Linked DNA regions of Homo sapiens: all the other regions are linked to region 1. The links come from fine-mapping of genetic effects on gene expression. A gene starts in region 1. Each other region holds a variant in brackets. All regions are shown on one strand. Distances are between the middles of the regions. Region 1 holds the start of SMAGP (small cell adhesion glycoprotein). Region 2 overlaps BIN2 (bridging integrator 2). Region 3 overlaps BIN2 (bridging integrator 2).

What was found. PIP is the estimated chance that this variant, and not a neighbour inherited with it, causes the effect.
Region 2: its variant is the best candidate, but not a certain one, in a credible set for the expression of SMAGP in whole blood (INTERVAL, PIP 0.86).
Region 3: its variant is the best candidate, but not a certain one, in a credible set for the expression of SMAGP in whole blood (INTERVAL, PIP 0.61).

The regions. Positions count from the first base shown.
Region 1 is chr12:51,267,509-51,272,857 of GRCh38, reverse strand. SMAGP (small cell adhesion glycoprotein) reads left to right here and starts at 2,443. Exons shown (of 4, transcript NM_001031628.2): 1 at 2,443-2,602; 2 at 3,542-3,613. The coding sequence starts at 3,580. RefSeq lists silencers at 2,385-2,464, 2,505-3,174 and an enhancer at 2,269-2,769.
Region 2 is chr12:51,298,230-51,303,229 of GRCh38, reverse strand. It overlaps BIN2 (bridging integrator 2), which reads left to right. Exons shown (of 13, transcript NM_016293.4): 3 at 89-143; 4 at 450-544; 5 at 1,115-1,210; 6 at 3,516-3,623; 7 at 3,942-4,027. Among named protein-coding and RNA genes, the nearest start is that of BIN2, 23 kb to the left of the region's middle. The variant C/T (reference allele first, on the strand shown) is at 2,858.
Region 3 is chr12:51,310,694-51,315,693 of GRCh38, reverse strand. BIN2 (bridging integrator 2) reads left to right here. Exons shown (of 13, transcript NM_016293.4): 2 at 1,791-1,871. Among named protein-coding and RNA genes, the nearest start is that of BIN2, 11 kb to the left of the region's middle. The variant C/GC (reference allele first, on the strand shown) is at 2,467.

The DNA of each region.
Region 1 (5,349 bases):
TAATTTTTGTATTTTTAGTAGAGACGTGGTTTCGCCATGTTGGCCAGGCTGATCTCGAACTCCTGACCTCAGGTGATCTGCCTGCCTTGGCCTCCCAAAGTGCTGAGATTACAGGCGTGAGCCACTGCGCCCCACCAGTTACATTTTAAAGAGAAAAAAAAGATGCTTATTGAAAGAACATTACTAACAACTGTCGAAATTGTGAAAGTGACAGCAAATCAGTAGAGTCAGTCAGTTGAGCCAGATAGCCTCTGAGTCTGTAGTTCTTTTTTTCTTTTTTTTTTGTCGCCCAGGCTGGAGTGCAGTGGCACAATCTCGGCTCACTGCAACCTCCGCCTCCCGGGTTCAAGCGATTCTCCTGCCTCAGCCTCCCCATTAGCTCGGATTACAGGCGCCTGCCACCACGTCCAGCTAATTTTTATATTTTTAGTAGAGACAGGGTTTCACTGTGTTGGCCAGGCTGGTCTTGAACTCCTGACCTTGTGATCCACCCGCCTCGGCCTCCCAAAGTGCTGGGATTACAAGTGTGAGCCACCGCGCCTGGCTGAGTCTATAGTTCTAAACAATCTTCAACACATAATAGAAAATGTGAAAGAGACAGACCCAGGTCCAAGAACGATCTGAACTTCTCCTGGAATTCATGATCAAGGTGGACAGCTAGAAGTATGTCAATGCCAGCAATTGTCCTCCTTTGGATTTAGCCCTCTAGGATTTTAATTTCCTTTTCTCTTGGATATTCTCTTATCTAAGGACAAGCCAGGCTCACCTTTCTTTTATTAAGTTACATATGCATAGCTGGCATATCACTTTCTTTGCCTTTCTTGGTTGGATTGGCATTTTCCCATGCACATATTTACATATATTTCTCACAATATATTTATATAAAATGAATTTCATCACTTTTTTATTGTTTGTTTTCCTCCTGTATTTGTGTTTGTTTTTTTCTTTTGAGACGGAGTTTTGCTGTTGTTGCCCAGGCTGGAGTGCAATGGTGTGATCTCGCCTCACTGCAACCTCTGCCTCCCAGGTTCAAGCAATTCTCGTGCCTCAGCCTCCAGAGTAGCAGGGATTACAGGTGTGTGCCACCACGCCCAGCGGATTTTGTATTTTTAGTAGAGACAGGGTTTCACCTTGTTGGCCAGACTGGTCTCAAACTACTGACCTCAAGTGATCCACCCGCCTCCCAAAGTGCTGGGAGCCACAGTGCCCTGCCCTCTGGTTTCTTTTATAATGAACACTTTAGGAATAAAAGCAACTACTCTTGCTTTGCTTGTGACTTTGTTTTGTTTTCTCCCTTTATGCCTCTCTCCTCTGAGACCTTCCCTTTCGGTCTGTTCCCGGATTAACATGCACAATCTGATGATGCCTGTCTTTCTACAGAAAGTATTTCTGTATAAATACTGGTTTACAAACCTACAGAACGCCTAGGAGTGCGAAGTAAGCACAGAAGTCTATCACTGGGAGGGAAAGAATAATCACAAGGGTTCCAATCCTAAACGGGAAGCCAAGGTAACAAGACCTAGCGTTTATTGAGCACTTACTATGTGCCAGGCAAGGTTCTAATGCCTTACAGTACATATTTACTAACCTATTTCGTCCCAACAGTCACTCTATTCAGACAGGTATTGCCCCAGATAAGAGAAACGGAACAGAAGCAGCTTGTCCAAGATCACACAGCAGAGCTGATTCCAGTGCCTGCGCTATATACTATTACATCCTCTTAGTCACTGAATTCTTCTGATTAATTTGGGAACATTTCCTGCCACAAACGAGTGAGTCAAGAGGTAGCTAAAGCATGGCACTGATTATTCAAATTGAGGTGCTCACCATGCTTCTAGAACCATGGATATGAGATGGCTTTACAGGCATGATCACTTTCAGACCCGCATTTTAGGAATGAGGAAACAGATTTTCGAGATGTTAATTTGCCCAAAGTCACCCAGCTAGCAAGCAGAAGAGCTGGGGCTGTTTGAATCCAAAGTCCACGGCACTCCTAACCGCTGCTCAACGCTGCCCCACAAGAACGTCCAGCTGGCAAGACCCGGGTGGGGCTCGTTGCTCTCCCCGCTTCACCTCCCTGCTTCACGGCCGGGGGTGTGCTGGCTAAGTTCGCTCATCTGCCAAGCTTCAGGACACAGACCTATGTGAGCAAGCGATAAACAAATGCAAATAAATGTAACTTTCCACATTAGCTAAAAATTCAGAGAACGTCAAGCCCAGGGAAATGGGACGGATCCCAGTTAGCCCGCGGCTCCAATCTGGTCCCCCCCCAACCCCGAGCCTCGCGGCGAGAAAGGAAGCGGCTCCGGATGGAGAGTAAAGTGACAATCGGAGAAGGGCAGGCTGCCTTTCCTCCCGGGGGAGCCAAGGGGACCTGCAGAGGGCGGTTTCTCTCCGCTTTTCCTGTCCCACCCCGTCGGCCTGCCCCCCACCCCCTCCGGCCTCTGCGCCAACCCCGCGCGCCACCCGCGGCTTCCTCCGCTCGGGGTCCTCGTTCGGCCTCTGCTGGCCTCCGCGACTCCGCGGTGCCCGCCCCCGTTGAGTTCAAAAGGACGCGCGGAGCGGCGCCGGCCCTTCACCAGCAGCCCGTCCGACTGGAAAGGTGAGCACGAGGGAAGGGCGGGGGCGCCGGAGAGCCGGGTCGCCCACATTCGCCGCAGCCACCTCGGCCGTGGCAGGAACCGAAACCCGGAGCGGCCGAAGCTCAGCGCTCCGCTGGGGCAGAGGGTCGCGGCGGCTGGGAACGCCGCTCCCCGACGCACCGGCCGCCCCCAGCGCAGCGCGCTCCGCGGGGTGCTGGTAACGCGGGGGGCTCGGGGCGGGGGCGGGGACGGGGGCGGGGCCGCGGGGCGAGGACCAACCCAGCCCGTCGCGTCCACCCCGCGTTCGCAGGGGCGTCGAGGATCTCCGGGGCGCGGGGCGCGGGCTGGGGCCCAGTGAGGCTTGGCAGGCTGTGCGCGGACCGCGCCCTGGACGGCGAAAGCAGGCCCGGAGGGGGCGGCCAGTCCGGCGTCCCAGCGTCCGAGGCGAGCCAGAAGGCGGCCCACGGCCGTCGCCTCCCGGTCCCGGCCCGGCTACTGCGCTGCGCCCACTCCGCTCTGGAGCCTGGGCGCGGGTCCTGACCTTCCCGGCCCTCTCCTGACACCTGGTGGATGGCGTCACCAGAACTCCTAGCTGTGGAACCCTAGGGTACCTGTTACCGCGCTTTGGCGAAACTGGGTTCGCTGCTGATTTGCGAACCTTTGCCTGACTTTCTCAGGCCTTGAGAGATCTAAGTAAATTTGGTGGCCCATTGAAAGGACCTGGAGAGAGCGTATGAAGGTAACACCCCGTCAAACTGCATGCGGCCTCAGACCTGCTCCTGTGGAGAGCTGTTGGTACCTGGAGCCTGAGGAGATATTCAGGGAAACCAGAAGAGGACAAGAGAAAAAGGGGAAGGGACTTGGGAGAACCTGGCACCAGAGGCTTTCCTGGGACTTCCAGGACTCAAAGCCATAGGGGCCCACCCGCTACATTCCTGTCTTTGCCCCTCTTCCTACAGATCTGCCTCTTCTCCAAGAAACTCAACCACTAGTGACAATGACCAGCCTCCTGACTACTCCTTCTCCAAGAGGTAGGTGAAGGCCTTTCCTAATCCCAGTGAGAAAGAATTGTTCAACATCCCCTTCCCCAGACCAGTCCTGGAAGCCTCAGCCCAGGTGGGAAGACTCCCACCTCTCTCTGCCTGCCTCACACAGGAAGGGCCTGGGAGGAAGCAGGAACTAGAGTGTGCCCCTTAGTACGGTTTTAATCTGAAGTCACATGGACATGGTGACTTCACAAATCTTTGTAACCTCGGTTTATCAAATAATTTTATGTCGGTAATCCCAGGACTTTGGGAGACTGAGACAGGAGGATCTCTTGAGGCTAGGTGTTTGAGACCTGCCTGGGGAACATAGTGAGACCCCATTGCTAATTCAAAAGAAAGAAAGAGGCCGGGCGTGGTGGCTCATGCTTGTAATGCCAGCAGTTTGGGAGGTCGAGGTGGGCGGATCATCTGAGGTCAGGAGTTTGAGACCAGCCTGGCCAACATGGTGAAACTCCATCTCTACTAAAAATACAAAAAAATTAGCCAGGCGTGGTGGTGCACGCCTGTAATCCCAACTACTCAGGAGGCTGAGGCATGGGAATCGCTTGAACCTGGGAAGCACAGGTGAGCCGAGATCGTGCCATTGCACTCCAGCCTGGGCAACAAAGTGAGACCGGTCTCAAAAAATAGGAAGGGAGGGAGGAAAGGAAAGGAAGGAAGGAAGGAAGGAAGGAAGATTATTGTATAAGCCTAAAGGAAGGGCTTTACATTCATCTGTCTAATAATTTATAGCTATGGCAAAGAATGTAGCAGAAACCCTTGTAATTAAATGTGGAAAAGGAATCTTCAAAGATAACAGGGAAATCATTTTTTAAAAACCTGCTAAAGATAGTATTGCTAACCTCTAAGCTCCGGTTTCATCATTCACAAAATAGGGAAAATAGTACCTATCTTATGATTTATGAAGATTAAATGAGACAACCCATATAAAACACCTAGAAGAGTGTGTAGTATCTCGTAAGCACTCAGTCACGTTGGTTATTAGCACTGAGTACTTGTTAGAAACCCATCTTTCCCTTGAAAGTGATTTTGCTGGCTTTCTCATTCCACTCCTCTGGTGATACAGACCCAGCATCAAAACCCCATTGTTCCCTGAAGGTGTGCGGAGGCCGGGCACTACTGCTCAGCACTCTGAGAATGGATGCCCACCTTTTAGTTCATCATCAGGCTGGGCCGGACAAACTATCAGTTATTTATTGACTGTTTTCAGCATGTGCTAGTTAGGGAGAGAGAGGAACAAACCCTTGGTTGGTCTATACACCTTTGTCTTCCTATACACAGTCACATTTGTCATTAGGACAGGCATTCTCTGCTTTTACTGATGTGGAAACAGGTGAGTGACACCACCAGTGGAAGTCTAAGACAGTGTCCTCTGTGACTGGTAATGCACACAATTCAGACTTTTAGTTGTCTGGTGAGAAGAGATAAAAGAGAGAAATGGCCAGGTATGGTGGCTCACGCCTGTAATTCCAGCACTCTGGGAGGTTGAGGCAGGCAGACTGAGCTCAGGAGTTCGAGATCAGCCTGGGCAACATGGCGAAACCCCATCTCTACAAAAAAATTTAAAAATTAGCCGGGCTTGGTGGTAGACACCTGTGGTTCCAGCTACTCCAAAGGCTTAGGTGGGAGGATCCCTTGAGCCCAGGAGATGGAGGTTGCAATGAGCCGAGATCATGCCACTGCACTCCGGCCTAGGTGACAGAGCAAGACCCTGTCTTAAA
Region 2 (5,000 bases), 31 kb before region 1:
GCTCTTAACCTACTTTTTGACTTTGACCTCTGGAGCATCTTTTGAAATATTAATCTCTTTAGTCACCAAATGTACTTTTCTCTTTCAGGCAGAAGGCCACAAGCTGTACAAGGACCTGAAGAACTTCCTTAGTGCAGTCAAAGGTGGGCAATGCAGCATGGGAGAATCCAGAGGGCATTTATACAGCTACTAGGAGGTTTGGGGTGGAAAACAATAGCCATACCCCCAGGTTTTTGTCATTTTATCATTTGACTACTCTTGACTCCTGGAATTTTGTGGGCTGAGGAAGAGTGACTTTTCCTTTCAGCCCCATCCAGCTTTCCTCACTTATATAACCTAAACCTTCTGAGTTTGTCCTTCTGAATTGGAACCACTGATTTGTCACCCATGTGATTACACCAACTACTGTTGGGGAAACATGATGGTGGGACTGAATTCTCTCCTTTCAGTGATGCATGAAAGTTCAAAAAGAGTGTCAGAAACCCTGCAGGAGATCTACAGCAGCGAGTGGGACGGTCATGAGGAGCTGAAGGCCATCGTATGGGTAAGAGTGGCTTGAGTTTTACAACTTATTGGCACTTACTCCTGTTTGCATCTCAACCTCAGCTTAGCTTCTCTATCCAAGAAAATAGGAAAACAAAGGAGCCAGTTCACACTGTGCATTTGTGTAGCCTCAGTCACTGGGTGGTAGGAAGAAGCTACAACTGTTAAGGTAAAAACAAGTTTTCCCTAATCTGTGGATCCCTCTAATTTTGACCCTCTTCTCCTCTTTAAAACATTATGGGAAGTTTTACCTCCTAAAGATTGGTTGTTTTTTAAAACAAACTTCATGCAGTTATACACTCTTAAACTTTCCCATCTAAGCTCTGGAGTCCAAGGCTTTGACCTTGTGCCCTGTTCTTAATCTCTGAATGTATGTTCAGACTCCCATAGAGCAGTTCCTTGGGGTAGGGGCTGTCTCTTTTCTTCCTCTGACTAGTCCCCAGAATCCAACATGGTATTCTAAATACGGTGCTACAAAAAAGGTTTTTGCAGGGAGAATTTGGGTATTTCCCTGGTAGGCAGTTGTTGTTGGGAAGTGGAGCCTTCACCAGCCTCTGACTCTATCCTACAGAATAATGATCTCCTTTGGGAAGACTACGAGGAGAAACTGGCTGACCAGGCTGTAAGGACCATGGAAATCTATGTTGCCCAGTTCAGTGAAATTAAGGTACTCAATGTACAGAATCAAGGCTGGGTTGTGGATGACCCATCCAGGTTAGAGAACATATTGGGTTAAGCATTATAAGTAGAATTAGAACTCACGATTAAGAATGAAGTTTGGGTAAGTTAGGAGAAAGATTAAGGTTGAGGGTTAGACAAGAGGTTAGGATAGAAGGTTGGAAGTAGTGTGAAGTTTATGTTTAAACTTAGATTTCAAGGCTGGGTGCAGTGGCTCACACCTGTAATCCCAGTACTTTGGGAGGCCGATGCAAGAGAATCACTTGAGCCCAGGAGTTCGGGACCAGCCTGGGCAACATGGCAAAATCCCATCTCTACAAAAAATACAAAAAAAAATAGTCATGTGGTGGTGCGTGTCTGTAGTCCCAGCCACCCTAGGAGACTGAGGTGAAGGATCACTTCAGCTGGGGAGGGAGAGGTTGCAGTGAGCCAAGATCATGCCACTGTGCGCCAGCCTGGGTGACAGAGGCTGGTGTCTCAAAAAAAGTAAATAAATAAAATAAACTTAGATTTCAGTAAGCTATATTTGGGCTGATTTCGAATTAGATCCAAGTTAGAGGCATCCCTTTTAGCTGTGAGAAACAGCTGATGGCACTAAAGATGTTTATTGTATAGAAGAGGAAACATGGAGCAATCAAATAGTTATCTTCAAATATTTGAAAGTCTGTTAGGTAAAATAGGAATTCAACCTATTCTAAACTGTTCTGCTTTCTGTTCCAGAAAGCAGAATTAGAATTCATCTATTCATTCAGCTAGTTTTTTTTTGTTTTTGTTTTTGTTTTCTTTTTTTTGAGATGGAGTCTTGCTCTGTTGCCCAGGGTGGAGTGCAATGGCGCAGTCTTGGCTCACTGCAACCCCCGCCTCCCGGGTTCTAGGGATTCTCCCGCCTCAGCCTCCCGAGTAGCTGGGATTACAGGCATGCGTCACCAAGCCCAGCTAATTTTTGTATTTTTAGTGGAGACAGGGTTTCTCTGTGTTGTCCAGGCTGGTCTCAAACTCCTGACATCAGGTGATCCGCCCACGGCCTCCCAAAGTGCTGGGATTGCAGGCGTGAGCCACTGCACCCGGCTCTAGTATTTATTAAACACCTACTCTGTCAAGCACCGTGCTGATTCAGAGGAAGAAGTTAGAAGGAGGCTGACTTAAGTTCCTAATAGTTAAAGCTTTCCAAAAATGAAATGAAATAGACTCAAAGATAGTGAGTTGTCTGTTCTTTGTGCAAACAGAAGTCAAACTACTTCTTATCTTGGATGTTATAGAGAAGCCTCATGGTATTGTATGGGAAATTGGACCAGATAATTGCTAAGATCTTTTCAAATTCTGTGACTGAGAGAATGAAACGGTTCAAAGACATAGTTTGCTTCTCACTGGTATAATTTATAGTTTGGATAAGGCTGAGTAGACTTTCTCTCAGTGGTCATAGTAATTTATAGCTTTTATTGTGTTTTAGAGCTTTCAAAGCACTTTGTATTCAGCATTCACTCTTTCAAATAACAGTTGTATAAGGGGAGATGGGGCTACTGAGGCTCCAAAAGAGATGTGCCTTGCCACTGGCCACAGGCTATGAATGGCAGATTTGGGACTAATTCCCAAAAATCCAGACTTTCACTTTCATGTGATTCTCAAGGCCATTTCT[C/T]CTGGAGGCTGAACCAGTTTATAATGGGTTCATAGGAAATATTAAAATTTAATACAGCGGGAGGTGGAGGTGGAAATATATATATGTATTTAATTATATATCTATTACATATATATAATTAATACAGATTTCCACATGCTCTGTAGGACTCTATCTCCCTCTGAGACTCCCCCATTCTTCCCAGATACTGAGGGAGACCCCATGGGCGCAAAACCCTATTAGAAAGTGAAATTTGGGCCAGGTGCGGTTGCTCCTGCCTGTAATCCCAGCACTTTGGGAGGCCGAGGTGGGCATATCACATGAGCCCAGGAGTTCGAGACCAGCCTGGCTAAGATGGCAAAACCCCATCTCTACTAAAAATGCAAAAATTAGCCGGGCTTGGTGCACATGCCTATAATTCCAGCTACCTGGGAGGCCGAAGCACAAAAATTGCTTGAATCTGGGAGGCAGAGGTTACAGTGAGCTGAGATCGCACAACTGCACTCCAGCCTGGGCAACAGAGCAAGACCCTGTCTCAAAAAAAACAAAAGCAAAAAACAACGAAAGTGAAATTTGATAGTAGGATGCAAGAATCTTGCTCTCTGTTTGGTATTCTGTTACCTACATCCTGGCCACTAAAAAGTGAGTATCCACACCCTTTCTCATTACCCTGGGTCAGGAGAGAATTGCCAAGCGGGGTCGGAAACTCGTGGACTATGACAGTGCCCGACACCACCTGGAGGCAGTGCAGAATGCCAAGAAGAAAGATGAGGCCAAGACTGCCAAGGTAAAACAAAAACAACAACAAAAACTGGTAAACCCTTCCTGTTCTCCTTCTCCCCATGGTGGTAGCAGGTGGCTGGGCCAACATGGGTATAGGAAATTATAAATTCAGCATCCAGTGTCCTAAAGGAAATCTGTTTCTTCTGACACTGATGCTGTAAGGATAGTCAGAGTCTTGAGGCTGGGGAGGGCATGGTCAGGGGAAGAAGAGGGATGGCTCCTAAAAAGCCTAGTGCCTAAAAAAATGCAGAGGATGAAGGAGGCATGCTGTAGTACTGGGTTCAGAATTGAGGGAGATTGTCTTGTCTCTTTTACCACCTAGGCAGAGGAAGAGTTCAACAAAGCCCAGACTGTGTTTGAAGATCTGAACCAAGAACTACTAGAGGAGCTGCCTATTCTTTATAATAGGTAATGACTGAAATTCAGAAAAGGTGCCTTTGCTTCACACAAGGCACCTTGTGTGCCTTGACAGTAAGTAGATAAAAGTGTTTTAGATTTAAATTCCCACACTGCCCCGCCCCCTTTTTTTTTTTTTCGAGACAGGGTCTCACTCTGTCACCCAGGCTAGAGTGCAGTAGCACTCAATCTCAGCTCACTGCAACCTCCACCTCCCTAGTTCAAGTGATTGTTGTGCTTCAGCCACCCGAGTACCTGGGATTACAGGCATGTGCCACCATGCCTGGCTAATTTTTTTTTGTATTTTTAGTAGAGATGGGGTTTCACCATGTTGCCCAGGCTGGTCTCGAACTCCTGGCTTCAAGTGATCCCCCTGCCTTGGCCTCCCAAAGTTCTGGGATTACAGGCGTGAGCCACCATGCCCAGCCAGATTTTCCACATTTAAAGAGAAATCTAAGCAGAAACTCCATTTGTATCCTTTTTTCTTTTTATTGTACAAGAGATGCATTAATAGAATTATGGTCAGAATATTTTATATTGTCACTTATTAGTGTACATAGGATGGAGCCTTTTTAATGAACACATGTATTCTAAAACATTATGTGACTCCTAATTAAAATGAAATTGAAATTTTATTTTTTATTTTATTTTATTAATTAATTAATTTATTTATTTTGAGACAGGGTCTCATTCTGTCACCCAGGCTGGAGTGTGGCTCACTGTAACCTATGCCTCCCGGGTTCAAGCAATTCTCCCACCTCAGCTTCCTGAGTAGCTGGGACTACAGGCACGTGCCACCACACCTGACTAATTTTTGTTTTTGTTTGTTTGTTTGTTTTGTTTTGAGACAGAGTCTCACTCTGTTGCCAGGCTGGAGTGCAGTGGCACAATCTCGGCTCGCTGCAACCTCCACCTCCCGGATTCAAGCGATTCTCCTGCCTCAGCCTCCCAAGTAGCTGGGACTACAGGCGCGTGCCACTAAGTC
Region 3 (5,000 bases), 43 kb before region 1:
AAAGCCCCCATGAGAGAAGTGTCCCTGCCCAACCTCTCTAACCTCATCTATCTAGAGGAACCTATGGCTATAGCTGAAAACAGTCTCTCAAGTAAAAAATGTCTTCAGGGCTCACATTTTACTTAAAAGCCATGCACAGTTTACAGTTTTCTCAACAATACTTGTTTTAATATAATGCTTTTCTCCTTCCTTCTCAAAAACCCACTTTAAATATTAATAACAGGCCGGGCGCAGTGGCTCACGCCTGTAATCCCAGCACTTTGGGAGGCCGAGGCGGGCGGATCACGAGGTCAGGAGATAGAGATTATCTTGGCTAACAAGGTGAAACCCCGTTTCTACTAAAAATACAAAAAAACTTAGTCAGGCATAGTGGCGGGCGCCTGTAGTCCGAAGCTAATCGGGAGGCTGAGGCAGGAGAATGGCGTGAACCCGGGAGGCGGAGCTTGCAGTGAGCCGAGATAGTGCCACTGCACTCCAGCCTGGGCGACAGAGCGAGACTCCGTCTCAAAAAAAAAAAAATAATAATAATAATAACAATGCCAGCCAGCCTAATGGCTCATGCCTATAATTGCAGAACTCTGGGAGGCTGAGGCAACAGGATCACTTGAGCCCAGGAGTTCAGCCAGCCTGAGCAACATAGTGAGACCCTGTCTCTACAGAAAATTTTTAAAAATTAGTGAGGTGTGGTGGTGTGAGCATGTGGTCCCAGCTACTGGGGAGGCTGAGGTGGGAGGATTGCTTGAGCCCAGAGAGGTTGAGGCTGTAGTAAGTTGTGATTGCACCACTGTACTACAGCCAGGGCAACAGAGCAAGACCCTGTCTCAAATAAAATAATGACAATAATAACAATGACATTCAGAAAGATATACCTTATTTCTTTCTTTTTTTTTTTTTGAGACAGAGTTTCGCTCTTGTTGTCCAGGCTGGAGTACAATGGTGCGATCTTGCCTCACTGCAACCTCTGCCTGCTGGGTTCAAGCGATTCTCCTGCCTCAGCCTCCCCAGTAGCTGGGATTACAGGCATGCACCACCATGCCCAGCTAATTTTGTATTTTTAGTAGAGATGGGGTTTATCCATGCTGGTCAGCCTGGCCTCGAACTCCCGACTTAAGGTGATCCACCTGCCTTGGCCTCCCAAAGTGCTGGGATTACAAGTGTGAGCCACCACACCCAGCCAGATATACCTTATTTCTTCTGAGCTTTATATTAATATATATCCTCTAGCTCACTACTACGTATCCCCTAGAGCTACCCCTAATTTGAAAAGAACTACAGAACAGGATTGTTTTTTCAGCAGTTTGTTGTATTCCTAATTCTTTTGGTCCAGTAAGAGTACAGCCCTTCAAGGCCAGGCATGTTGGCTCACGCCTGTAATCCCAGCACTTTGCGAGGCCAAGGCGGGTGGATCATTTGTGGTCAGGAGTTCGAGATCAGCCTGGCCAACATGGTGAAACCCCGTCTCTACTAAAAATACAAAAATTAGCTGGGCGTGGTGGTACACGCCTGTAATCCCAGCTACTCAGGAGGCTGAGGCAGGAGAATTGCTTGAACCTGGGAGGCGAAGGTTGCAGTGAGCCGAGATCGTGCCACTGCACTCCAGCCTGGGCAACAGAGTGAGACTCCGTCTCAAAAATAAATAAATAAATAAATAAATAAATAAATAAATAAATAAATAAGTACAGCCCTTGAGTTGTAAGTGAGATTCTTGACTGAAGCCAGGGTCATATGAGGCCAACATGTAAGAGAGACTTGACTATAACCTTACGGGCCTTTCTGACTTATATCCCTAGGTGCTGCAGAAATTGGGGAAAGCTGTAGAAACCAAAGATGAACGATTTGAACAAAGCGCTAGCAACTTCTACCAACAACAGGTAATCTGGAGGGTAGGGGAGGGAAGCTTGGAAGAAGAAAGGAGACACGAGGGCTGAGTGGCAGAAGAACAATAAGTTCTGCAAACTGGCAAACATCTCCACCAAGCCACCCTCCCCCTAGGGTTAAGGGCTACAGGGTGACCTGTTGCTTATCCTTCCTCGGTGAACTAAAGGAATTTACCAGCCAGGCGCAGTGGATCACCCCTATAATCCCAACACTTTGGGAGGGCGAGGCGGGCGGATCACCTGAGGTCAGGAGTTTGAGACCATCCTGGCCAACATGATGAAACCCCGTCTGTACTAAAAATACAAAAAAATTAGCTGGGCATGGTAGTGTGCACCTGTAATCCCAGCTACTCGGCAGGCTGAGGCAGGAGAATCACTTGAACCTGGGAGGCAGAGGTTGCAGTGAACAGAGATCTTGCCATTGTACTCTAGCCTGGGTGACAAGAGTGAAACTCCATCTCAAAAAAAAAGTAAAAATAAAAATAAAGGAATTTACCTTTTTTCTTGCTGCTGACTGTCATTTTGGGAACAGAGAAATCTCCCTCCCTCCTTCCCTCCCTCCCTCCCTGCCTGCCTGCCTGCCTGCCTT[C/GC]CTGCCTTCCTTCCTTCCTTCCTTCCTTCCTTCCTTCCTTCCTCTCACTGCAACCTCAACCTTCCAGGTTCAGGCAATTCTCCTGCCTCAGCCTCCCGAGTAGCTGAGATTACAGGTGTGTGCCACCATGCTATGCTAATTTTTTCTTTTTATTTTTAGTACAGACAGGGTTTCACCATGTTGGCCAGGCTGGTCTCAAACTCCTGACCTCAGATGATCCACCCACCTTGGCCTCCCGAAGTGCTGGGATTACAGGCATGAGCCACTGCACCTGGCCCACAAATTCTTTACTATATAAATATCAGTTGAATTATATAGAAAATAATTTTTAAAATTATATTAATGGGTTATTAGCTATCATCTAATTCAGTAGCTGAGTGTATATCAGAATCATTTGGGAAATATTTTTAAATGCAAGTTCTCTGGGAGTAGGGCCTGGGAATCTTACTTTTGAACTTTTTGTTGTTGTTATTGGTTTACCATCTTAGATCTGATGAACTTTTTTTTAATGGAATATTTCAAATATGTACAAAGGCAGATAAACTTGTAAAATGAATTCACATGTACTCATCACTCAGCTTCCATAATTTATCCACTCATGGGCAATCATGTTTCACTGTGTCCCCACTCACTTTCTCCTATCCTTGATTATTATGAAACAAATTCTAGATATATCATTTCATTCGGCAACCTAAGTAACGAACAGAGGGAGGCTGTCTAAGAGAAAAAGATATTTATGCGGGAATAGAGCATTGCAATGGGAATATGTGTACCATAGTAAACTATGAGGTATTCAGGGAGGTAAAGGAAGACACATGTTTTCAAAGGAAAAAATGAGAAGGATTACATGATTCTTTGAAAATAATTATCATTGGCTACAAAGATCAATAATAAGGGTGACACCAGTCCAAGGTTGAACAGGCAGTTGCTGGGCAGAAGTCCTTGCAGAAATATTTTTTGTATAAGGTTGTGATGGCCTTTGTGCAAGGTTGTGGTTTTCATAGGATCTTTTGTGATAATTCTTATCAGGCAAATAAGCATGAGAATGCTCTTTTCATAGCCTTCCCTGGCTCTATTATCAGAGATTTTTTTTTAACACTAGTGACTCCATTTTGATTCCAACAACATTGACACATCTATAAAAATTTCATTATCAGGCCGGGTGCAGTGGCTCACGCCTATAATCCCAGCACTTTGGGAGGCCGAGGCGGGCAGATCACCTGAGGTCAGGAGTTCGAGACCAGCCTGGCCAACATGGTAAAACCCCATCTCTACTAAAAATACAAAAATTAGCTGGGCGTGATAGGACATGCCTGTAATCCCAGCTATTCGGGAGGCTGAAGCAGGAGAATTGCTTGAACCTGGGAGGCGGAAGTTGCAGTGAGCCAAGATCGCACCACTGCACTCCAGCCTGGGTGACAGAGTGATACTCTGTCTCAAAAAGAAAAAAAAAATTCATTATCAATCTCTAAAAATAGAACTCTTTTAAAATGTAACTACAATACCATTATCACACCTCAAAATATTTTTCTATACAACATTTACTTGGCCAGGCATGGTGGCTTATGGCTGTAATACTAGCACTTTGAGAGGCCAAAGCAGGAGAATCAATTGAGCCTAGGAATTCAAGACCAGCCTGGGCAACATAGCAAGATCCCGTCTCTACAAAAAAATACAAAAATTAGCCAGGTGTGGTAGCACATGCTTGTAGTCCCAGCTACCTGGGAGGCTGAGGTAGGAGGATTGCTTGACCCCAGGAATTCCAGGCTGCAGTGAGCTATGATCATACCAGTGCATGCCAGCCTAGGCAGCAGAGCAAGACCTGGTCTCAAAAATGAATAAAGTATAAATAAAATATGTACTCATTACAACAAATCAGAAAGTACATGGTTGGGTACAGTGGCTCACACCTCCCAGTGGGAGGCCGAGGTGGGAGGGTTGCTAAGACTAGGAGTTTGAGACAAACCCGGCAACACAGGAGACCTTAACTCTACAAAAAATAAGAAAAATTAGCTGGGCATGGTGGTGCACGTCTGTGGTCCCAGCTACTGAGCAGTGAGCTGTGATTGTGCCACTGCACTCCAGCCTAAGCAACAGAGCAAGACCCTGTCTCAAAAGAAAAAAAAAAAAGCCCCTACATAAAGAAAAAAGAAAGAAATGAATTTAAAAATTAATAATAGGCCCAACATGGTGGCCCACACCTATAATCCCAGCACTTTGGCAGCCCAAAGTGCTGAGCTCAGAAGTTTGCGACCAGCCTGGGCAACATGGCAAAACCCCATCTCTACAAAAAATACAAAAATTAGCTGGTCATGGTGGTGTGCTCCTGTATTCTCAGCTACTTGAGAGGCTGAGGCAAGAGGACTGACTGAGTCTCAGGTCGAGGCTACAGTGAGCTTTGTTTGTGCCACTGCACTCCAGTCTGGGTGACAAAGTGAGACCCTATCTCAAAAAAAAGGAAAAGAAAACAATATAAACAAAACGATTATGATTTTACATCTTCCTAAACTACAACAATGTTATTTTATATCTTT